Linked DNA regions of Homo sapiens: regions 2 and 3 are each linked to region 1. Evidence: fine-mapped expression QTL. A gene starts in region 1. Each other region holds a variant in brackets. All regions are shown on one strand. Distances are from middle to middle. Region 1 holds the start of CNPY4 (canopy FGF signaling regulator 4). Region 2 holds the start of LAMTOR4 (late endosomal/lysosomal adaptor, MAPK and MTOR activator 4). Region 3 holds the start of COPS6 (COP9 signalosome subunit 6).

The links.
Region 2: its variant is fine-mapped to the expression of CNPY4 in whole blood (INTERVAL, PIP above 0.99).
Region 3: its variant is fine-mapped to the expression of CNPY4 in unexposed skin (GTEx, PIP above 0.99). The same link has a PIP of 0.9 or more in atrial appendage, esophagus muscle, left ventricle, thyroid, visceral fat and whole blood.

Annotation. Positions count from the first base shown.
Region 1 is chr7:100,114,499-100,122,236 of GRCh38, reverse strand. It overlaps CNPY4 (canopy FGF signaling regulator 4), which reads right to left and starts at 2,603. Exons shown (of 6, transcript NM_152755.2): 1 at 2,375-2,603. The coding sequence starts at 2,492. It overlaps TAF6 (TATA-box binding protein associated factor 6), which reads left to right and starts at 2,879. Exons shown (of 15, transcript NM_139315.3): 1 at 2,879-3,033. RefSeq lists enhancers at 1,907-1,976, 2,347-2,566, 2,777-2,926.
Region 2 is chr7:100,141,071-100,151,947 of GRCh38, reverse strand. LAMTOR4 (late endosomal/lysosomal adaptor, MAPK and MTOR activator 4) reads right to left here and starts at 3,030. Exons shown (of 4, transcript NM_001008395.4): 1 at 2,973-3,030; 2 at 2,369-2,449. The coding sequence starts at 2,975. RefSeq lists silencers at 2,461-2,550, 2,561-2,650 and enhancers at 2,190-2,802, 2,951-3,060, 3,331-3,390, 3,415-4,027. The variant A/G (reference allele first, on the strand shown) is at 4,999.
Region 3 is chr7:100,082,553-100,089,068 of GRCh38, reverse strand. COPS6 (COP9 signalosome subunit 6) reads right to left here and starts at 100. Exons shown (of 10, transcript NM_006833.5): 1 at 3-100. The coding sequence starts at 78. It also overlaps a transcript of ZNF3 not described here. RefSeq lists a silencer at 51-240 and enhancers at 1,287-1,980, 6,120-6,516. The variant G/A (reference allele first, on the strand shown) is at 3,030.

The sequences.
Region 1 (7,738 bases):
GGGGGGAGGTAAAAGACAAACACACCAGCCATTCATTCTGCAGATGACCTGAGGCAGCAGAGCATACAAGTGCAGACTATGGAGCCAGACTGGCTGGGTTGGAATCCTGGCTCAGCCATTTAGCAGCTGTGTGGCAATCTTCCTGCTTGCTGTGCCTCGGTTTCTTCATCTTTTTTTTTTTTTTTTTCAGACGGACTCTCGCTCTGTCGCCCAGGCTGTAGTGCAGTGGCGCAGTCTCGGCTCACTGCCAGCTCCGCCTCCTGGGTTCACGCCATTCTCCTGCCTCAGTCTCCCGAGTAGCTGGGACTACAGGCACCCACCACCACGCCCGGCTAATTTTTTGTATTTTTAGTAGAGACAGGGTTTCACCGTGTTAGCCAGGATGGTCTCGATCAGCTGACCTTGTGATCCGCCCGCCTTGGCCTCCCAAAGTACTGGGATTACAGGCGTGAGCCACCACGCCCGGCCGGTTTCTTCATCTTTATAATGGGATAATAGGCCAGGAGTGGTGGCTCACACCTGTAATCCCAGCACTTTGGGAGGCTGAGGCGGGCAGATCACTTGAGGAGTTCAAGACCAGCCTGGCCCACATGGTGAAACCCCATCTCTATTAAAAATACAAAAACTAGCCAGGTGTGGTGGTGCGCACCTGTAATAGCTACTCGGGAAGCTGAGGCAGGAGAATCACTCGAACCCAGGAGGTGGAGGTTGCAGTGAGCTGAGATCCCACCACTGCACCCCAGCCCAGGCAACAAAGGGAGACTCCATCTTAAAAAAAGTAAAATACATTAAAAATAAATAGGCCAGCACAGTGACTCATGCCTGTAATCCCAACACTTTGGGAGGCTGAGGTGGGTGGATCACGAGGTCAAGAGATTGAGACCATCCTGGCCAACATAGTGAAACCTTGTCTCTACTAAAAATACAAAAATTAGCTGGGCATGGTGGCGGGCGCCTGTAATCCCAGCTACTTGGGAGGCTGAGGCAGGAGAATCGCTTGAACCCGGGAGGCGGAGGTTGCAGTGAGCGAGATTGCACCACTGCACTCCAGCCTGGGCAACGGCATGAGACGCTGTCTGAAAAGAGAAAAAAAAAAAAAAAAAAAAAAAAAAAAAAAAAATATATATATATATATATATATATATAAAATTAATACAATTGGATAATAATAGTATGTCCCTCATAGGAGTGTGATGAAGATTAAATAAATCAACATATATAAAGGCTGGCACATAGTGAGCACTGTATAAGTATTCACTGTTATCCTGCAGTTATTTATTGAGCTCCTTCTGTATGCATACTAACAATATAGACAGCAATAAGACCTATTATCTCTATCTACAGGTCTCTGTCAGTGTAGTTGGGACAGATAAACCAAGGATGACAAGCTGTGGTGAAGCTGGGCCTGAACTCATGGGCTCAAGTGATCCTCCCACCTTGGCCTTCCAAAGTGCTGGGATTACAGATGTGAGCCACTGTGCCCAGGCCCGTTGGCTGTATTCTGATAGAAGGCCTGCAGAGGTGTTAAAGCAAGGACTGATACAATTAGGTGATTAAGTCTGTTTAAAAAGATTGACAGGTCAGGGGAGAAGAGCGGCACACGGAGGTGAAAGGAGACAGAGATGAGGACCAAGTCATGAGACTGTCATGACTGCCTTTCATGATACTGGAATACAGTTGAGGGGGTGAAGCGAAGAGAAAAGGAATCCAGGGAAGAAACGTAAAGTCAGGAGGGCAGCAAACTAGGGCATCAGGGCCAGCCCCCTTTCTCAACTGGGCCCCACGCTAGTGCAGCTATGGAAGGCGCTGCTTGCTGAAAAATCCATATAGTACGCACCGTCTGCAAAGTCTCACCGGATGGGGACACTCTCCTAGTTGTGTGGCTTCCTTTTGTTTATGAGCTTCAAAGGCTGAATTACTCACCCTCAAACCCCCTCAGCGGGGTGTGGGGCCTGTAATTTGGGAGCGTCTATGCTAGGGTAGGGCAGCGGATGTCCACAAGGCCTGAGCCTCACACCCGGCTCCTGCAGCCTCTGCAGATTAAGGTCTGGTGACATGAGGTAAACACTCACTGAAGATGCTCTAAAAGTTGGCAGTCCCGGGCCGATGGTCCCTGAACTACAATTCCCACAATCCATTGGCGGGCGGGGGGTTCCAAGCCAGCCAAAAAAATGCAGGCTCTCTCTGGATGCAGTTTGAGGTGGCACTACACGTTCGCTTCCTTGACCCCATCCAAATTCAGCCAAGCTCCACCAGAACCTCCCTCAAGCCTTCAAGGAGGTCGGGTGACCCACCCAATACAGGCTAGGATGTCCGGCCTAGAAGAAGGAGGTGTGGCCGGGCGATGCCTATAGGGGCTACCCCCTTCAAATACCTTCGCATTTGCTGGGCAAGCGTTCTGTGTCATCGTCCTCCTCCTTCAACATCCCAGCCCAAGCCTCGTGCACGGCCAAAAAAAGGAAAAGCAATATTCCCAACCGCACAGGTCCCATGACAAAGCGCCGTCTACAAACAATCACCGCTTGCCTTCAACTTCGGGAAGGTAGTGTGGGTCCCTTAAATTCCCAGGCGGCTAGCGGCAACCTTAAATCCAGCCGAGGAAGGTCGGCGCATGCGCAGGATCAGCCCAACAAGGGTGGGGCCTCGTTGCTACGGGTTTCCCTGCCTCCGTTTTGTGGCGCCTCTTGAAGGTCCTGGCAGCCGGGTAGTGAAGGAATAAATTGCAGTAATTACACCAAGAGGGAGTGCTCCTTATATATAGATGTAGAAACAAACTTTTAAAATATAATTTCATTCTGCGAGCCTAGAGGACTTATTCTGGTACGGGGAAGGGGCAGTGACTTGCTCTTAGGCTCTGCCAGGACCTGCTCCCACGAGGGGGCGGGGCCAAGATGGCGCCGAGCGCCGGGTGAGCAGCGTCTCGGCTGCCGCTAGAGTTTTCCTGCTCCCCGCGCTCGGGTGGCGGGGGCGGGTCTGAGTGGTACCCCGGAGGAGACCCTTTGAAGGTCCCTTGTGGGGACTGGAAAGAGGACGGTTGGTTGTGTGTCTGTGCTCGTGGGGACCCCGTGTGTGTGCCTGCATTGGAGAGATGTTGCAGGAGATGGGGTGGGCTCTCTGAACCTCCTTTCGCGCTGCCCGGGGATCTTCGACCTGCTTCTCTGCTGGGATCTCGCTTAAGTTAACCCTTCCCTGGGACGCCTTCCTGCCGCCTCCACTGATCTGAGGAGATCCTGTGACTGTAGCGTGTTTTATGAGCCTTTACTGGCAGAGGGTACCGCCGGGTATTGAAGGATTCGTAGGAGTTCGCCAGGGAAGTGGGACACGACCCCCTCTTGTAAACCCGGCGCCAGGCACAGAGTATGTCTCGAATAGTTGTGTTCCCTATAGATAAGACTTATAAAAGTCGGGGAGGAGATCAGGGATGGTTTGAAAAGAACCAATTTGTTTTTCGGCCTCCCTCTTCCCATCCTTCCAGCACGGCCCCACCCTACCTGTACTACTCCTAAGCAGTATTGATATGTTAATCTTCCTAATGTCCAACTGCAAGTGTGCCACTTTAATTTTTTTTTGTTTTTTTTTTGAGACAGGGTTTCCGTCTGTTACCCAGGCTGTTGTGCAGTGGCACCATCTTGGCTCACTGCAGCCTCCAACTCCTCAGTTCAAGCGATCCTCCTGCCTCAGCCTCCTAAGTAGCTGGGATGACAGGTTCACACCACCAGGTCCGTCTAATTTTTTAATTTTTGCAGAAATGGGGGTCTCACTATGTTGACCAGGCTGTCTCAAACTCCTGGCCTCAAACAATCCCCCCACCTCTGCCTTCCAAAGTGCTGGGATTACTGGGGTGAGTTACCTCTCTTGGCTCCAATTTGCTTTTTTTTTTTTTTTGAGATGGAGTCTCTCTCTATCGCCCAGGCTGGAGTGCAGTGGCACGATCTCGGTTCACTGCAACCTCCGCTTCCTGGTTCAAGCGGTTCTCCCACCTCAGCCTCCCAGATAGCTGGGACTACAGGCGCCCGCCACCATGTCTGGTTAATTTTTGTGTTTTTACAAAAAGACAGGGTTTCACCATGTTGGCCAGGGTGGTCTCGAACTCCTAACCTCAGGTGATCTTCCCGCCTTGGCCTCCCAAATTACAGGCGTGAGCCACTGCACCTGGCTCCACTTTGCTTTTTTTGTTTTTTTTTTTTTTTTGAGACAGAGTCTGGCTCTGTTGCCCAGGCTGGAGTGCAGTGGTGCGATCTCGGCTCACTGCAAGCTCCGCCTCCCGGGCTCACGCCATTCTCCTGCCTCAGCAGCCTCCCGAGTAGCAGGGACTATAGGTGCCTGCCACCATGCCTGGCTAATTTTTTCTATTTTTTAGTAGAGACGAGGTTTCACCTTGTTAGCCAGGATGGTCTCAATCTCCTGACCTAGTGATCCGCCCGCCTCGGCCTCCCAAAGTGCTGGGATTACAGGCGTGAGCCACCACGGCCGGCCCAGTTTGCTTTTAACTACAGTGTAGGCTCAAAGCTTGGGCCTATGACCTATTAATAATAGTGATACCAAGTATTTACTGAGCACCAATATCTCTAAGCCTTACAACTAATTCATTTACTTCACAAATATTTATGATGTCCCAGGCTGGGCTCCTGGAATACATCAGTGAACATAATAAAGAGCTCTGTCGGCCGGGCACAGTGGCTCACGCCTGTAATCCCAGCACTTTGGGAGGCCAGGGTGGGTGGAACACCTGAGGTCAGGAGTTCAAGACCAGCCTGAGCAACATGGTGAAACCCCATCTCTACTAAAAATACAAAAATTAGCCAGGTGTGGTGGCGCATGCCTGTAATCCCAGCTACGCAGGAGGCTGAGACAGGAGAATTGCTTGAATCTGGGAGGCGGAGGTTGCAGTGAGCCAAGATCGCGCCATTGCTCTCCAGCCTGGACAACAAGAGTGAAACTCTAGCTCAAAAAAAAAAAAAAAAAAAAAGAGCCCTGTCTAGATGGTGGACGGAGACGGGGTCTCACTCTGTTGCCAGGCTGGAGTGCAGTGGCACAACCTCTACTCACTGCAACCTCCACCTCCTGGGTTCAAGCAATTCTCCTGCCTCAGCCTCCCGAGTATCTGGGACTACAGGTGCACATCACCACGCCCAGCTAATTTTTGTATTTTTAGTAGAGATGGGGTTTAACCATGTTGGCCAGGATGGTCTCGATCTCTTGACCTCGTGATCTGCCCACCTCGGCCTCCCAAAGTGTTGGGATTACAGGCGTGAGCCACTGCGCCATGCCCAAAAGATGTTAAATGCTATGGAAAAGAAAAAGTGGGCTGCCCCCACTCTGAGGGCAGAGTGCAGAGTTAAATAGGGTGGTCAGGGTAGGCAGCCAATTAGATATTTGGGAAGAACATTCCAGGCAGAGGGAATGCAGCAAAGGCTATTAAGCAAGTACATACCTGGCAAGTTTAAGGAGCAGCCAGAAGGAATGTATGTGTCTGGATCAAAGTGGAAGAAGGAAGGGCGTTCAGAGATATAATGGGGAGAAGGTAATTTTGAAGGGCTTTGTAGGACATTATAAGGATTTCGTCTGTTTTTTTTGTTGTTGTTGTTGTTGTTTTTGAGAAGAAGTCTTGCTTTGTTGCCCAGGCTGGAGTGCAATGACACAGATCTTTGCTCACTGCAACCTCCGCCTCCCGGGTTCGAGTGATTCTTCTGCCTCAGCCTCCCGAGTAGCTGTGATTACAGGTGCCCGCCACCATGCCCATCTAATTTTTTTATTTTTAGTAGAGATAGGGTTTCACCATGTTGGCCAGGCTGGTCTTGAACTCCTGCCCTCAAGTGATCCGCCCACCTTCGTCTCCCAAAGTGCTAGGATTACAGGCGTGAGCCACTGTGCCTGGCCTGAGATGGGGTTTTGCTATGTTGCCCAGGGTGGTCAGGAATTCCTAAGCCCAAGCAGTCTTCCCACCTCACCCTCCCAAAGTGCACAGATTACAGGCATGAGCTGAGCCACTGCACCTGCCCATTATAAGGATTTCAGGTTTTACTTTATGGCAAGTGGAGAGCCATTATGAGGGTTTGAGCAAAGAAATGACAATCTGCTTTACAGTTTGACAGAAGCATTTTGGCTGCAACGTTAGGAATAGATGTAGAGAAAGGCAAGGGTAGACTCCGGTTGACATTGTTAGGAGGTTTTTGGAGTTACCCAGTGGATAGATGATGGTGACCTGGGCCAAGCAGTGGGAGCAGAGGAGTCAGGTTGGACTACCTGGTGGATTGATTGATTTTTGAGACAGAGTCTCGCTCTGTCGCCAGGCTGGAGTCCAGTGGCACGATCTTGGCTCACTGCAACCTCCACTTCCCAGGTTCAAGTGATTCTCTTGCCTCAGCCTCCCGAGTAGCTGGGACTACAGGTGCGTGCCACCACGCCAAGCTAGTTTTTGTATTTTTAGTAGAGATGGGATTTCACCATGTTGGCCAGGATGGTCTCCATCTCTTGACCTGGTGATCCGTCCGCCTCGGCCTCCCAAAGTGCTGGGATTACAGGTGTGAGCCAACGCGCCCGACCGGATTTATTTTTTTACCTTTTTTTTTTTTTTGAGACAGAGTCCATCTGTCACTGAGGCTGGAGTGCAATGGCGCAATCTCAACTCACTGCAAACTCTACTGCCGAGGCTCAAGTGATTCTCCTGCCTCAGCCTCCCAAGTAGCTGGGATTACAGGCACGCGCCACCATGCCCAGCTAATTTTTGTATTTTTAGTAGAGAAAGGGTTTTACCATGTTGCTCAGGCTGGTCTCGAACTCCTGACCTGAAGTGATCCACCCACCTTGGCCTCCCAAATTGCTGGAATTACAGACGTGAGCCACCGCACCTGGCCTACCTGGTGGATTTGATGTGAAGGCTCAGATAAAGAACAAGTGTCTGGATGGATGGCATTGCTATGAAGATAAGGAAAGCTGAGCCTGGGCCAGACACTTCGGCTCACGCCTTTAATTCCAACACTTTGAGAGGCCAACGCTGGAGGATTGCTTGAGCCCAAAACTTCAAAGTGGTGGGATTGAAGCCCTGAGGTGTAACAGAAAAAGATAAAAATCTGGGCTGGGCCTGGTGGCTCAGGCCTGTAATTCCAACACTTTGGGAGGCCGAAGCAGGAGGACTGCGTGAGCCCAGCAGTTCAAGACCAGCCTGGACAACATAGTGAGACTCTGTCTCTGCCCCTGCCCCTGCAAAAAATTGGCTGTGTGTAGTGGTACACACCTATAGTCCCAGCTACTTGGGAGGCTGAGGTGTGAGGATTGCTTGAGCCTAGGAGCTCCTGGGCTCTATCAGTTTTCCCACCTCTGCCTCCTGAGTAGCTAGAACAACAGCCCTGTGCCTGCATACCCAGCTAATTTTTGTATTTTTTGTACAGATGGGGTCTCACTGTGTTGTCCAGGCTGGTCGTGAACTGCTGGGCTCAAGCGATCCTCCTACCTTGGGCTCCCAGAGTGTTGGAATTACAGGCATGAGCCACTAGGCCCAGTCCAGATTTTTTTTTTTTTTTTCCTGAGACGGAGTCACCCTGGCTGGAGTGCAGTGGCGTGATCTCGGCTCACTGCAACCTCTGCCCTCTGGTTTCAAGTGATTCTCGTGCCTTAGTCTCCCTAGTAGCTGGGATTACAGGTGTGCACTACCACGCCCTGCTAATTTTTGTATTTTTAGTAGAGATGGGGTTTCTCCATGTTGGCCAGGCTGGTCTCGAATTCCTGACCTCAAGTG
Region 2 (10,877 bases), 28 kb before region 1:
AGGAATGCTGGAGGCCAGGAGTTTGAGACCAGCCTGGGCAACATAGCAAGGCCCCTGTCTCCACACATTTTTTTTTTTTTTTTAATGGCTGGGCGTGGTGGTGCTTGCCTGTAGTTCTAGTTACTTGGGATGCTGAGGCGGGAGGATTGCTTGGGCCCAGGAGTTCAAGGCTACAATGAGATGTGATCGTTACCACTGCACTCCAGCCTGAGTGACGGCGAGACTCTATCTTAAAAAAAAACAAACAAACAAAAAAACAGGACGGGGTGCTGTGGCTCACACCTGTAATCCCAGCACTTTGGGAGGCCGAGGTAGGCGGATCACGAGGTCAGGAGATCCAGACCATCCTGGCTAACATGGTGAAACCCCATCTCTACTAAAAATACAAAAAAGTAGCCGGGCATGGTGGCGGGCGCCTGTAGTCCCAGCTACTAGGGAGGCTGAGGCAGGAGAATGGCGTGAACCCGGGAGGCGGAGCTTGCAGTGAGGGGAGACTGCACCACTGCACTCCAGCCTGGGTGACAGAGTGAGACTCCGTCTCAAAAAAAACAAAAACAAAAACAAAAAAACAGGCCGGGTGCAGTGGCTTATGCCTGTAATCCCAGCACTTTGGGTGGGAGGCTGAGGCGGGCAAATCATGAGGTCAGGAGTTCGAGACCAGCCCGGCCAACATGGTGAAACCCTCTCTCTACTAAAAATACAAAAATTAGCTGGGCATGGTGGTGCACACCTGTAATCCTAGCTAATCAGGAGGCTGAGGCAGGAAAATCACTTGAACCCGGAAGACGGAGGTTGCAGTGAGCTGAGATCATGCCACTGCACTCCAGCCTGGGCCACAGAGCGAGACTCTGTCTCAAAAAACAAAAACAAAAAAAAACAAAAACAAAACTCTTCTCTCCTTGCTCCTCCTTCTTACCACCACTTGCCCAGTCTCATCTCTTTTTTTTTTTGTTTTTTTTGAGACGGAGTCTTGCTCTGTCGCCCAGGCTGGAGTACAGTGGTGTGATCTCGGCTAACTGCAACCTCCACCTTCCAGGTTCACGCCATTCTACTGCCTCAGCTTCCCGAGTAGCTGGGACTACAAGTGCCCGCCACCAGGCCTGGCTAATTTTGTTTTTGTATTTTTAGTACAGACGGGGTTTCACCGTGTTGGCCAGGATGGTCTCGATCTCCTGACCTCGTGATCCGCCCGCCTTGGCCTCCCAAAGTGCTAGAATTACAGGCATGAACCACCACGCCCAGCCCAGTCTCATCTCTTAATGACGCCTCCTTCTGCCCATCTTCACATCACTAACAACAATATTGCTCAACCACCTCACTGGGTCTTGTTTCTGTTTTAAAAAACCTTTCAAACTGTATTACCTTCAAGAATAAGTTCAAGTGTGTTAACCTGGCCTTGAAGATCCTTCACAATTACATCCTCCCTGACCATATCCTCCTCTCTTCCCTCAAACCTTCCCAAATCTTTTCAGCATAAACTTACCATCAGTTCAGATAGGTTAGTGCCACACACCTGCAAATAAGTCCTCCCCCACTGTAAATACTCTCCTTTAAGGTGGGCTGAATTCCTACCTCCCGGAAAGTTAGTTACCTTGTCATAACATGTTGAATTTTTAATATCCTGGATTCCCTCAATAGTCTTTACCACCTGTATTGTTTTCAACCCTTAACCTTAAGCTTTGTCTCTACCTAAGTCAAAAACATCTGGAGACTTAACACTATACAGTACTATGGAACAAAATACAAATGCCTCTTTAAGAAATACCAAATAAAGGCCAGACGTGGTGGCTCACGCCTGTAATCTAGAGACCTAACACCATACAGTACTATGGAACAAAATACAAATGCCTTTTTAAGAAATACCAAATAAAGGCCAGGCATGTTGGCTCACGCCTGTAATCCCAGCACTTTGGGAGGCTGAGGCAGGTGGATCACCTGAGGTCAGGAGTTTGAGACCAGCCTGGCTAACACGGTGAAACCCCGTTTCTACTAAAAATACAAAAAATTAGCAGAGCATGGTGGCACGTGCCTATAATCCCAGCTACTCGGGAGGCTGAGGCAGGAGAATCGCTTGAACCCCGGAGGCGGAGGTTGCAGTGAGCCGAGGTCGCACCACTGCACTCCAGCTTGGGCAACAAGAACGAAACTCAGTCTCAAAAACTATAAATAAATAAATCGCAGCCGTTAGGAGACTAAGATTCCACAGACTGATTACTGAAAGTAATTGCAAAAACTGCAAATACTTTTGTACCAACCTAATAGATGCCAGGCAGGAAACCAGATAAAAGCCGAGAAAAGAAGGGCCAATATTAGAAGGGGTTACCGGGCTGTGTGCACTAAGGGACCCCCTCCCTTTCCCAGAACGCACCGCCAGCACTGCACCTTCACTCAGTACCAGGTAGCCGAGCTGGTCTGGGATTCGCTCCAGCCCCTGGGTCAGCGCAGAAGTCTAGTGGGTAAAGATGCAAGTCGTGAGAAGCATGCTAGAGGGATGGACGGCCCGATACCCTTCACCTGCAAACCCAAGTCTCTGGGTTGACGATGGCCCCAGGTTTTCTCATTCCCCAGCCAGGTCCCTTCCCGGCCCCCTCCCCCCTACATGGTCCTCAATACTGATCTTCCCGAGCCTCCATCTGCCCCCACTCTCGCCCCCGGGCTCCCCTGGCCTTCCACATCCCACCTTTGCTACCCCAAGGGGCCTTTGCTGCCCCACTGGCCCCTGCCCCCAGACCCTCTCTTCACCTCCCTTCGTCTCCGCCCGACCTGCAGACTACCCGCAGCCCCAGAACACCCTCCCACAGACCCCTCCCCAGCATTCTCGTCGCCATCCCTCCCATTTCCATCCCCTCTTCCTCCCCGAGCGGATAGGAGGTGAGGGTGGAGCGCAGGCCCACCAGGGGGAAACCACACAGACTGGGGAGCAGAGACGCTGAACCCCCGGCGGGTCCTCTCGCGCATGCGTCCTCACTCACCATCGCAGTCTTCGGTGCTGGGGGAGCTCCCTACCAGATAGGTAGCTTCCGGCTTCAGGCCCCGGTCACGTGCTTGCAGCCGCTGCGCTCCTCCTTCTGCTTGCGCCACTGGCCTTTAGCCCCGCCTCTAGCATGAGGATTGGACAGTGGCCACGTCGTCAGACCCAACCAGCCAGTGCGAAGCGCTGTTTCCCGGAGGCGCACGTTGATTGGTGATATCCCCTCTTTAACACCCATCTCCCCGCCCCTCAGTGCCTGAGCGAGAGGAAGACGCGGGAGCGTCCGAGGAGGGGAGGATCTGGGAGGGGCGGGAGTAGGCCGGGGTTGACCGTTTGGTCCTGGGCGCACTGTCTGGAGCCAGAGTTCCGCCTGAGCCAGGATGCCCGCTGGTGTGACCCCCCCAAATGAATCCCTTCCCAGGTTTAAGACTGGACCCAAAAACTAGAGAATAAAAGGAAATAACGTGCAATGCATGTGAAAAACTATTCAAGGCTGGGCGCCGTGGCTCACGCCTGTAATCTCAGCGCTTTGCGAGGCCGAGGACGGATCATTTCAGGGCAAGAGTTCGAGACGAGCCTGAGCAACATAGCGAGACCCTCCCCAGTCCCCCCGCTCCAACCACCTCTACAAAAAAATAAGAAAATAAGCCGGGCATGGTGCCTCACGCCAGTAATTCCAGCTACTAGGGAGGCTGATGGAGGAGAATCTCTTGAGCTCAGCAGTTGCAGAGTGCAGTGAGCTATTATGGTGCCACTGCACTCCAGCCTGGGTGCCCTTCCTCTAAAAAAAAAAGAAAAGAAAAGGAAAAAAAAGGTACTCAAATGCTACTTTTTTTTTTTTTTGAGTCGGAGTCTCACTCGGTCGCCCAGGTTGCAGTGCAATGGCGCGATCTCTGGCTCAATACAACTTCCGCCTCCCGTGTTCAAGCAATTCTCCTGCCTCAGCCTCGCGAGTAGCTGGGATTACAGGCGCCCACCACCACGCCCGGCTATTTTTGTGTTTTTAGTAGAGATAGGGTTTCACCATATTGGCCAGGCTGGTCTCAAACTCCTGACCTCGTGATCCGCCCGCCTCGGCCTCCCAAAGTGCTGGGATTACAGGCTTGAGCCACCGCGTCCGGCCCTCAAATGCTACTTTTGTGCCTACTCAAGACAGCTCTTTGTTGAAGACAAGAATTTGTTCCCGAAGTGGTTTTTTTGTCCCCAGATTCAGTCCGGGACAATGTGGTGGTAAATAGAATCCCCAGCTAGCCAATGCAGCTGCAATACTGAATATTCATTCCCTACAGGAAAAAATTAGAAACAGTACCTTGGAATGATACACACACACACACACACACACACACACACACACATCACACAATATATGTAAACATTAGAAATTTTTGTTTTAAATAATTTCTAAACCTGTTGCCATATTAATGTGGTGGAGGCTGTGTTAGTGAAATAATATGAAGAATGATTCTAGAAGCCTGGGCAACATAGCAAGACCCCATCTCTAAAAATTTAAAAATTAACCAGGCATGATACTGCACATGTAGTCCCAGCTACCCGGGAGGCTGAGGTGGGAGAATCGCTTGAGCCCAGGAGGTTGAGGCTGCAGTGAGCCATGATCATGCTACTGCACTCAAGACTGGGTAAAAGAGCAAGATTGTCTCAAAAAGCAACAAAAAAATCTGAATATAATAACAATTGTTAAAGTCTGGGTGTCTTTTAAGACTTGTTAGAAACAGCAATTTCAAGGCTGGGCGTGGTAGCTCACACCTGTAATCCCAGCACTTTGGGAGACCAAGGCGGGTGGATCACCTGAAGTCAGGAGTTCGAGACCTGCCTGGCCAACATGGTGAAACCTCATCACTACTAAAAATACAAAACAAACAAACAAAAAAAAAAAAAACTAGGTGGGTGTGGTGGTGCATGCCTGTAATCCCAGCTACTGGGGAGGCTGAGGCAGGAGAATCCTTGAATCCAGGAGGCGAAGGTTGCAATGAGCTGAGATTGTGCCATTGCACTCCAACCTGGGCAAC[A/G]AGAATGAAACTCCGTCTCAAAAGAAAAAAAAAAGATTTTGATGTAATAAATTATGGTGGCAGTATTCTTGATATTTAACCATCTTTGTGTTTCTGGAATAAAATCTGCTGGAACAAATTATACTACCCATTTGTTTTACTGCTTTATTTAGAATTTTTAAAATCTATTATGATAAATGAGATTGGGCTGTAGTTTCTTTTTGGTATATTCTTTATCTGCTTTTGGTAGAAAGAGCAGGTTGCCAGATAAAATGAATCAGAGAGTTTCCTATCTTTTTTATCTATGGTCTGCAAATCAAACTGGTTGGACCAACTCACACTCCTCTAGCAATGTGTCAGAGTTCCCAGTTATCTCCAGCTCCATTAACACATGGTATTGCCACACTTTTTGTTTTTTGTTTTTTTTTTGAGACAGTCTTGTTCTGTTGCCCAGGCTGGAGTGCAGTGGCGCAATCTCAGCTCACTGCAACCTCCACCTCCTGGTTCCCGGGTTCAAGCAATTCTTCTGCCTCAGCCTCCCGAGTAGCTGGGACTACAGGAGCGCACCACCACACCCAGCTAATTTTTGTATTTTTAGTAGAGATGGGTTTCACCATGTTGGCCAGGATAGTCTTGATCTCTTGACCTCGTGATCTGCCTGCATCAGCCTCCCAAAGTGTTGGGATTACAGGCCTGAGCCACCATGCCCAGCCAGTATTGCCACACTTTTAGGGTAAAGTTTTTGGATATGCGATGGCTTCTCATTGTAGTTTTTATTTGCATTTACCTAAATATTAATGAGGTTGATCACATTTTCAGACAGGTTTGGCTTTTGGGATATCATCTTTTGTGAAGTATCAGTTCAACTTTTTTTTTTTTTTGAGACAGAGTCTTGCTATGTTGCCCAGGCTGGAGTGCAATGGTGCGCTCTTGGCTCACTGCAACCTCCGCCTCCTGGATTCAAGCAATTCCCTTGCCTCAGCCTCCCAAGTAGCTGGGACTACAGGGGCACGTTGCCATCCCGGCTTTTTTTTTTGTATTTTTAGTAGAGACGGGGTTTCACCGTGTTGCCCAGGCTGGTCTTGAACTCCTGAGCTCAGAGCAATCCACCTGCCTCGGCCTCCCAAAGTGCTACGATTACAGGCATGAGCCACTGCAACTGGCTTATTTATTTATTTTTTTTTTGAGATAGTCTTCCTCTGTTGCCCAGGCTAGAGAGCGGTGGTGCGATCTCGGCCCACTGCAACCTCCACCTCCCAGGTTCAAGCAATCCTCCTGCCTCAGCCTCCCGAGTAGCTGGGATTACAGGCACGCACCACCAGGCACGACTAATTTTTTTGGGTTTTTAGTAGAAAGGGGGTTTCACCATGTTGACCATGTTGGCCAGGCTGGTCTCAAACTCCTGACCTTAAGTGATCTACCCACCTCGGCCTCCCAAAGTGCTGGGATTACAGGCATGAGCCACCATGCCGGCCCAGTTCAACTCTTTTCTCATTTTTCTATTGAGTTTGTCTCTCTCTTTTTTTTTTTTTTTTTTTCCCGCCCAGGCTGGCTAGAGTGCAGTGGCGTGATCTCAGCTCACTGCAAACTCCTCCTCCCGGGTTCACATCATTCTCCTGCCTCAGCCTCCCGAGTAGTTGGGACTACAGGCGTCTGCCACCACGCCCGGCTAATTTTTTAGCTCAGGAGTTTGAGACCAGCCTGGCCAACGTGGCCTGTTGTGGGAAGTCAGGGACCCCAAACGGAGGGATTGGCTGAAGCCATGGCAGAAGAACGTGGATTGTGAAGATTTCATGGACATTTATTAGTTCCCCAAATTAATACTTTTATAATTTCTTACGCCTGTCTTTACTGCAATCTCTGAATGTAAATTGTGAAGATTTCATGGACGCTTATCACTTCCCCAATCAATACCCTTGTGATTTCCTATGCCTGTCTTTAATCTCTTAATCCCGTCATTTTGGTAAGCTGAGGAGGATGTATGTCACCTCAGGACCCTGTGATGATTGTGTTAACACAAATTGTTTGTAGAGGATGTGTGTTTGAACAATATGAAATCTGGGCACCTTGAAAAAAGAACAGGATAACAGCAATGTTCAGGGAACAAGAGAGATAACCTTAAACTCTGACTGCCGGTGAGCCGGGTGGAACAGTGCCATATTTCTCTTCTTTCAAAAGCAAATGGGAGAAATATTGCTGAATTCTTTTTCTCAGCAAGGAGCATCCCTGAGAAAGAGAGTGTGTCCCTGAGGGTAGGCCTCTGAAATGGCCGCTTTGTGGGGCGGCCGTCTTTCATGGTCGAAGCTGTAGGGATGAAATAAGCCCCAGTCTCCCGTAGCGCTCCCAGGCTTATTAGGACGAAGAAATTCCCGCCTAATAAATTTTGGTCAGACCAGTTGTCTGCTCAAACCTGTCTCCTGATAAGATGTTATCAATGACAATGCGTGCCCGAAACTTCATTAGCAATTTTAATTTGTCCCGTCTTGTGGTCCTGTGATCTCGCCCTGCCTCCATTTACCTTGTGATATCTTATTACCTTGTGAAGCATGTGATCTCTGTGACCCACACCCTATTCGTACACTCCCTCCCCTTTTGAAAAAATCACTAATAAAAACTTGCTGGTTTTTATTAGTCATCACGGAACCTGCCGACATGTGATGTCTTCCCTGGACACCCAGCTTTAAAATTTCTCTTTTTTGTACTCTGTCCCTTTATTTCTCAGACCGGCCGACTCTTAGGGAATATAGAAAAGAAGCTATGTGAAATATTGGGGGTGAATTTCCCCCGATAGCGGCCAAATCCTGTCTCTACTAAAAATTCAAAAATTGGCTGCACATATTGGCAGGCACCTGTAATCCCAGCTACTCGGGAGGCTCAGGCCTTGAACCTGGGAGACAGAGGTTGCAGTGAGCCAAGATCGCACTACTGCACTCCAGCCCGGATGATAGAGCGAGACTCAGTCTCAAAAAAAAAAAAAAGGAAAAAGTAATAATAAAACCACAGAATGAAGTTAAAGATAACTTTAGGCTGGGCGCAGTGGTTTACGCCTGTAATCTCAGCACTTTGGGAGGCCGAGGCAGGCGGATCACGAGGTCAGGTGTTAAAGACCAGCCTGGCCAACACTTTGAAACCCCGTCTCTACTAAAAATATAAAAATTAGCCAGGCGTGGTGGCATGTGCCTGTAATCCCAGCTACTCAGGTGGCTGAGGCAGGAGAATCGCTTGAATCCGGGAGGTGGAGGTTGCAGTGAATGGAGATCACACCACTGCACTCCAGCCTGGACAACAGAATGTGACTCCTTCTCAAAGAATAGACAAATAAATAAATAAATAAAAAGATAACTTTATTGGTGACTAGGGTTGTGTCAAAAGAACTCAAAGGCCAACTTGAAGAGGCTTCCACTGGACAAAAAAAAAAAAAGAATATTTTGAAATCAATCAGGACAATAACTGCAGTGAATTGAAACATAACAAACATGCCTAAATCCACAAACTTATTTTTAAATTTTTGTTTGTTATTGTTTGTTACAGAGATGAGGTCTCGCTATGTTGCCCAGGCTGCTCTTGAACTCCTGGTCTCAAGTGATCTGTGCCTCAGCCTTGCACAGTGCTGGAATTTCAGGTGTGAGCTGCACTGCCCGGCCACTGAGATCTTAAAATTGGACTTTCATTTCCTTCAACATAGTAAGTGTTACAATCTGTGTCTGATAATTCCAACATCTGGAGTCCTTGTGTGTCTGTGTGTGTCCATGTTTCTGTAGTCTGTTGTTTCTATTGTTCTGGCTGCCCTGCTTTATTACCTGCTTTGTGATATTTGATTGTTTTCTGGACATTTTATTTGAAAAAATACTTTTATGTATACCGTTAAGACCTAAGGCACTATTATCTTACTCTGAACAGTTTCCACTATTAGATATCTAAGGTATTTAACAGTTCAGACACATGGTTTGAAGTTCTGTGGCCACACAGAAAAATTCCTGGGAGTACAGTCTACCCCAACAAACAGAGTAAAATTCTTCAGTTTTCAACCCAGTACAGGGACTGTTACATAGCATCTTCCATTTGGTGAACGTTAAGCTCCAACTCCCATTGTGCTAATGCATGAAAGCCACCAAAAATACATCTCTGCCTTTCAGTGAATGCCCATGGATTAGAGTCTCAACAAACAGCAGAAGATGCTTCTCTAAAGTTTACCTTCCCAGTTGCTGAAGGACTTTCACCCATGTTCACTCTATCTCTCTTGTTTTTTGGACACGGGGTCTCACCTTGTTACCCAGGCTGGAGTGCAGTGTCGCAATCTCAGCTCAATGCAGCCTTGACCTCCCAGGTTCAAGCGATCCTCCTGCCTCAGCCCCCCAAGTAGCTGGGACTACAGGTGCATGCCACCACACCTGGCTGTTTTTTTTTTTTTTTTTTTTTAAAGAGATGGGGTCTTACTATTTTGCCCAGGCTGGTGTAAAACTCCTGGGCTCATGTGATCTTCCCACCTTGGCCTACCACCTGCTGGGATTACAGGCATGAGCCACTGTACCCGGCCCACTCTACTCTTGAGAATGGCAAAAGCCAAGCTTTATGTCTCTGCTGTCTTTACTCACAAATATCCCTGGTTTAGAATCACCCCTAAGCCATCTATTTGAGCTCCAGTCCTTTTCCCTGTTCTCTCCTGATAATTCTTCAGTGTCATACAAGGTCTTTGATGCATTTTAAATATTTTTATTTTATTTTATTTTTTGAGACAGAGTTTCTCTGTGTCACCCAGGCTGGAGTGCAGTGGCACAATCTCGGCTCACTGCAACCTCCACCTCCTGGGTTGAAACGATTCTCCTACCTCAGCCTCCCAAGTAGCTGAGATTGCAGGTGTGCACCAGCATGCCTGGTGAATTTTTGTATTTTTAGTACACATGGAGTTTTGCCATGTTGGCCAGGCTGGTCTCGAACTCCTGACCTCAGGTGATCCACCCGCCTTGGCCTCCCAAAGTGCTGGGATTACAGGTGTGAGCCACTGTGCCCAGCCATAAATATTTTTATTTTAAATCTTTTTTCAGTTGTCTTTATTGGGGGTAGTCAGGCCAAAAGCCACAGTTCATTTGCAGATTGTTCTTTTTTTTCACGCTTAGTAAACAGCATAGACCAACCACACCTTCCTTTATTGGGAAATCTTATCTCATCTTGGCTTTCATAATATCACTTCCTTCAATGCACACGTGAGCAACTTGAAAATGAGGTCCACATGGGATCCATTTTGCTGGTGAGGGTGGTATTAGAGGCACCTGGCCCTCAATAGTGGTGGTAGTTTGCGAGGCTAGACTCCTGGCACAGAAAGGCATGCATCCTTGGTGCAGTGTGAATGACAGCAGGAGTCTCTCCTACCCCAATGAGTAGGGCTGCAGCACTGGGGGTCTGAGCATGATTTTAGGACATAGTTCTTGGAAGATCAGCATTCAAGTTTTCATCTCCATTCTCCTAATACTTATGTGGGCTGCCCAGGATCCTTTTATTAATTCCCTTTATCTGTAATCAGCCAGAATTAGCTTCAGTTTCTTGAGAGGAAAAGCAATGACTAATCAGAGTGTGTGATTGTGCTGCCCCAGTAACTGGCAGCTTCAGTTTCATATGGTGACTGTCATGATTAGAAGTGAGCTATGGGGCAGACACGGTGGCTCACATCTGTAATCTCACCACTTTGGGAGACCAAGGTGGGTGTATCACCTGAGGTCAGGAGTTTGAGACCAGCCTGATCAACATGGAGAAATCCATCTCTACTAAAAATACAAAATTAGCCGGGCGTGGTGGCGCATGCCTGTAATCCCGGCTACTCGGGAGGCTGAGGCAGGAAGGAGAATCACTTGAACCCAGGAGGTGGAGGTTGCGGTGAGCCGAGATTGCGCCATCGTATTCCA
Region 3 (6,516 bases), 33 kb after region 1:
ACCTGCTGCATCCACCTCCATCCCGCTGCTTCCTCCGGTCCCGTTCGTAGCTGCAGCCGCCGCCGCCGCCGCCGCCATTTTCCCCGCGCCCGCCAGCCTCGGCCCCGCCCCCTTCCTTCCCGGCTTCCGTAAGGCGAGCGGCGCATGTTCGGTGTCCCCGCGGCGTGCGGCGGGCCTGGCGTCCGGGGAGCAGGCAGTTCCCGGGTCGCGGCGGGCGGCACTCGGTGCGGGGACGCCCGACGCCCTCTGGGCCTCGGTGCCTAGCGGGTTTTCCCAGACCCTGTCCCCGCCTGTCGCCTGCGGGTGACCTTTGACAAATTAACGACTTGATCGTCCTCGTCTGTGAAATTGGGATAAGAACGCCTAGTTCTTAAGGCTGTTGCAGAAGGAATGACATGTCGTGTTATTTCCCTCACAATAAAATCCAAACAACTAACCACAACCTGCAAGGCCCTGCCTGATCTGGCCCCGGCCTGGCCTCTTCTAGCCCTTGATCTTCAGGCTTCAGCTGCACTGGCCCTCATGTCTGGTGGTGGTGGTGGTTTGTTTTGTTTTGTTTGAGACAGGGTCTCGCTCTGTCGCCCAGGCTGGAGTGCAGTGGCCTGATGTCAGCTCACTGCACCCTCAAACTCCTGGGCTCAAGTGATCCTCCCAGTTCAGCCTCCCGAGTAGCTGGGACTACAGGCGCACCCCACCGCACCCAGCTAATTTTATTATTTGTTTTTATTTTGATAGAGACGGGGGTCTCACTAGGTTGTCCAGGCTGGTCTCCAACTCCCGGGCAGAAGAGATCCTCCATCCTCAGCCTCCCAAAGCACTGGGATTACAGGCATGAGCCACCGCACCCAGCTCTCCGTGTGTTTTTCACATGCTTTAGTTTCCCATTCAAAAGCCTGTGGTTCCTTCTCTTGTTCATCATGGTATCCCCTGTGACCAACACGGTGCCTGACACATTGGAGCCTAGATACTTTTTGAGTGAATGAAGGAATAATTAGGGGTGGAATCTGGTGTTGAGTTAGTTGCTCCATCTTGTGAAAGTTGCAGATACCAGGACAAAATCACATTGTCAGGTCCAAACAAATTGGAGCCATGAGAACACCAAGGAGAAGGTCTCATGCTTGCATGTCTGAGATAGGAATTATCTCAAGGACTTTCGAAAATAACCCCACAAGGCCAGGCATGGTGGCTCACACCTGTAATACCAGCATTTTGGGAGACCGAGGCCAGACAATCACTTGAGGTCAGCAGTTTGAGACGAGCCTAGCCAACATGGTGAAACCCCATCTCTACTAAAAATACAAAAATTAGCCAGGCGTGGTGGCAGGCGCCTGTAATCCCAGCTACTCAGGAGCCTGAGGCAGGAGAATTGCTTGAACCCGGGAGGTGGAAGCTGCAGTGAGCTGCGATCGCGCCACTGCACTCCAGCCCGGGCAAGACAAAGTGAGACTCCATCTCAAAAAAAAAAAAAAAAGAAAGAAAGAAAGAAAGAAAGAAGATAACTCCACAAGGCCAGGCATGGTGACTCACGCCTGTAATCCTAGCACTTTGGGAGGCCAAGGTTGGAGGATCACTTGAACCCAGGAGTTTGAGACCAGCCTTGGCAACATGGTGACACCTTGTTTCAACAAAACATGGAAACAAAATTCGCTGGGTATGGTAGAGGCATGCCGAGGAAATTTATGCTTGGGAAGTGAGTCAAAACTCCCTTCCTTTTTGTTCCCAGATAGCTGTAATTCCACAACCCTGTGTCATAGCCTCATACATAAGCCAGGCTCCTACAATGGCAAAAGGCATATACCTCCCCAGATGGTCTTCCTCACAAATTGCTTGCCAGGAAATTCCTCATTAGCCTCTGAATCTTTCAGCATAAACATTCCCCCTATAAACCAGCCCTAATCCGAGTTCTGTGAAATCTCATACTGACAATGTTGATTACAAGCTTATCTTCCCAATTATAGAACAAGGAAGAGACCAGGAATCATCCCTCCACCTATCCTGAGACAGATGCATAACTGACTTTTTCCTCCACTCCCTCTTTTCAAATGTTTATTGTATCTTACATAAAATGTAGATTTACTGAACACTAATGAGAAACTCACAAAAAAGTAACAATGTGCAGCAGGGTGTGCAGTGGCTCATGCCTGTAATCGCAGCACTTTGGGAAGCGAGTGGATCACTTGAGGCCAGGAGTTCAAGACCAGCCTGGCCAACATGGCAAAACCCCATCTTTACTAAAAATACAAAAATTAGCTGGGTGTGGTGGTGCCCACCTGTAATCTCAGCTACTTGGGAGGCTGAGGCAGGAGAATCACTTGAGCCTAGGAGGTGGAGATTGCAGTGAGCCGAGATGGACCCACTGGACTCCAGCCTGGGCAACAGATTGAGACTCTATTTCAAAAAATAAAATAAAATAACCATTTGCTGGACTGGGTGCAGTGGCTCACGCCTGTAATCCCAGCACTTTGGGAGGCCGAGGCAGGCAGATCACAAGGTCAAGAGATTGAGACTATCCTGGCTAACACTGTGAAACCCCGTCTCTACTAAAAATACAAAATATTAGCTGGGCATGGTGACACGCACCTGTAGTACCAGCTACTTGGGAGGCTGAGGCACAAGAATCGCTTGAACCTGGGAGGCAGCGGTTGCAGTGAGCCGAGATTGCGCCACTGCACTCCAGCCTGCTGACAGAGCGAGACACTGTCTTAAGAAAAACAAAACAAAACAAAACAAAAAACATTTGCCTCACTGCCTCTCCTTCTTCCTTATTTTCCTCTTGCATGCTTTCTTCCCTTAAATACTGAGTTCCTGGCCAGGCACAGTGGCTTATGCTTGTAATCTCAGCACTTTGGGAGGCCGAGGTGGGTGAATCACCTGAAGTCAGGAGTTCAAGACCAGCCTGGTCTCGACCAGTAGAGATGGTGAAACCCCATCTCTACTAAAAATACAAAAATTAGCCAGGCGTGGTGGTGCATGCCTGTAATCCCAGCTACTCGAGAGGCTGAGGGAGGAGAATCACTTGAACCCGGGAG[G/A]CGGAGGTTGCAGCGAGCCGAGATCACACCACCACACTCCAGCCTGGTTGACAAAGCAAGACTCTGTCTCATAAAAAAACCCAAAATTCACATCTGGCTAGCCTAGGCTGCTCCACCCCCTCCTTACCCCTAAACCTAAGCAAGTTGCACACACTGCTCCTCCTGCCACCCCTACAAAGAGGGGTACAGACACCTAGAAAGAGCCAGACATACTCTGGCTCTAGGTGTCTGTATCCCCACCCAAAGTGTAAGCTCCTAGAAAGCAGGTGAAGAACTGTGTTATGACCCTGAACAGCCCCATATGGTGATAGTTGTAATTTACAGGGGAATTATGCAATCTCTCCGTTTAGGAGCCTGGATGAAGGAAACTTGAAGGGGCCAGCAACCCTCAATGGAACGGACTTGAGAAATCCTGCAGGAAGAGGGGTCTTCTCGCCAAAGGGAAGTTAAAAAGGAATTTATTTTATTCTAGTCCCCAGTGATAAACCAACCAGGTCTGGACAAACTGAGAGGGTTGTCAAAGAAAAGTACCTAATGCCTTGTTTCTATTTGGAAAAACCAGGTCAGAAAAATGTATCTCTTTGGTGAGATGTTGGCTCACTGCAACCTCCACCTCCTGGGTTCAAGTGATTCTTGTGCCTCAGCCTCCCAAGTAGCTGAGATATCAGGCTTGCGCCACCACACCTGGCTCATTTTTGTATTTTTAGTAGAGATGGGTTTTCAGCATGTTGGCTAGTCAGTTCTCAGACTCCTGGCCTCAACCGATCCACCTGCCTCGGCCTCCTAAAGTGCTAGGATTACAGGTGTGAGCCACCGTGCCTGGCCAGAAAAATGTCTCTCTTTAAAGAATGCTAGGCAGCTTCCAAGGAGCATAGTGCTTCTCAGCTAGATAGAAGGCTAAAATAAAAACAAGATGAGAATTATTCTAGGGTTAGTAAAGTTGATCGTTTGCACTGCTCTCTCACACATTAAAGAACTCCTTTGCCTTGTTGTTTCAGGTGCTTTTGAAACATTGTTCAGATAATTATACAGCTCATAAAACAAGAGATTATTGTGGAATTTAAGGATGACTTTGACATTGAATCAGTTGATTGTGCGCATTTTAGAACTAAGTTTGCTAAACGTTTCTTTTTTTTTGTTTTTGTTTTGTTTTGTGTTTGTTATTGTTGTTTTTGAGACAGAGTCTTGCTCTGTCACCCAGGCTGGAGTGCAGTGTTACAATCACAATTCAGTGCAGCCTCAACCTCCTGAACTCAAGTGACTGTCCCATCTCAGCCTCCCAAGTAGCTGGGACTGCAAATGCGTGCCACCACGCCAGGCTAAATTTTGTATTTTTTGTAGAGATAGAGTTTCGCCATATTTGTTTGTCTCAAAACAAACAAACAAACAAACCAAAAAAATATCCCCACCCCAAAAACAAAAACGAACAAAAAGCAAGTGCTCCTTTTTGGTATGGGTCAGTGGTTATCTATTCACCTATCAGTCATTAATTTAACAAATATTTGGGAGTGCCTACCAGGCAGCAGGTACATCACTAAACAAAACGAAGTCCTGACCTCATGGAGCTTATACCCTAGTTGTAGGAAACAGACCATAAACATACTTCAGGATACGTATATATATACAGAGATGGAGTATCCCTCTGTCGCTCCCAGGCTGGAGTGCAGTGGTGCGATCTCGGCTCACTGCAACCTCCACCTCCCAGGTTCAAGCCATTCTGCCACCTCAGTCTCCCAAGTAGCTGGGATTACAGGTGCCTGCCACCACTCCCGGCTAATTTTTGTTTTTGTATTTTTAGTAGAGGCAGGGTTTCACCATGTTGGCCAGGCTGGTCTCAAACTCCTGACCTCAGGTGATCTATCTGCCTCGGCCTCCCAAAGTGCTGGGATTACAGGCGTGAAGCACTGCACCCGGCCAACAAATTGAATTTTAAAGATTGAGTTGGCTTTATTAGGGATTCATGAACTGGCAGCACCCAGTCTACAAAACAGAAAGGAAGCCAGGTGTGATGGTGCGTGCCTGTGGTCCCAGCTACTCTGGAAGCTGAGGAGGGAGGATCGCCTGAGTCCAGGAGGTTGAGGCTGTAGTGAGGTAGGATCGCGCCACTGCACTCCAGCCTGGGTGACAGAGTGAGACCCTGTCTCTAAAAAAAAAAAAAAAAAAAAGACTTCATATGTTGAAGAAGGCAGAGGAAAGCATGAACATGATGAGGTGCTTTCCTTCTATTGATGGCTATTGTGATACCTCATTTCTTATCTTCTTAGTTTAAAAGGATTTAAGGCTGGGTGCAGTGGCTCACACCTGTAATCCCAACACTTTGGGAGGCTGAGGTGGGCGGATCCCTTGAGCTCAGGAGTTTGAGACCAGTCTGGGCAACATGGTGAAAACCCTCTGTCTCTACAAAAAAGTAGCCGGGCGTGGTGGCATGCATCTGGGGTTCCAGCTACTTGGGAGGCTGAGGTGGGAGGATCACTTGACCTTGTGAGGTGGAGGTTGCAGTGAGCCGAAATCACAACACTGCACTCCAGCCTGGGTGACAGAGTAAGACCCCCGTCTCAAAAGAAAAAAAAAATTTAAACAAGAAACACACAGGAGGCCGGGCGCGGTGGCTCACACCTGTAACCCCAGCACTTTGGGAGATTGAGGCGGCAGATCATTTGAGGTAAGGAGTTCGAGACAAGCCTGACCAACATGGTGAAACCTTGTCTCTACTAAAAATACACACAAATTAGCCGGGTATGGTATCACACGCCTGTAGTCCCAGCTACTTGGGAGGCTGAGGCACGAGAATCAGCCTGGGTGACAAGAGTGAGACTCCCTCTCAACAACAACAACAACAAAAAAAAAAAAAAAAAAAGGAAAAAGAATAAAAGAAACACATGTCAAAGGAAATCCAGCATAGAGTAATTTATTGCAAAAGGAAAATAGTATTTTGAAAGTTAAGTGCAGAGTAGACAGTACACCCTGGGAGAGAGAGAGATAGAGAGAGAGTTAGTTCAGGGAGGGCTGCTCCTAAGGATGAAACAGCAAAGGCTGGCTCTAGAGAGACCCCCTTTGTAAGGGGTCTTACACGATTATTCATAAGGGGGTGGGAGAAGTGTTACTAGTAAGTATGTTCTGGGTGGTCCTCTAGGTGCACATGCGCAGTGGGTGTACAGGCTTGTTCATACATTGCATGTTTCATTAGCATCTTAAATTTCCACCCAGGGGCGTGTTTTTTACCAAGATAATGAGCAAAGGGTCAGTTTGAGGACAGGTGAAATCAAAATGCGCATGCTCCCTACAGGGGAAAGTCCCTACTGGAGAGCGCTCAGCTTGAATGAGCTCAATTACAATGCGAATGCTGGGGCTTACTGTGTTGACTGCGGTCACCACGGTTGCCGCGTCTCCAGGACACGGTCACTTCCTTGACTATCCCCGCCTCGCTTCCACCTGTAGCTTCCTTTTTTTTTTTTTTGAGACAGTCTCACTCTGTGGCCAGCCTGGA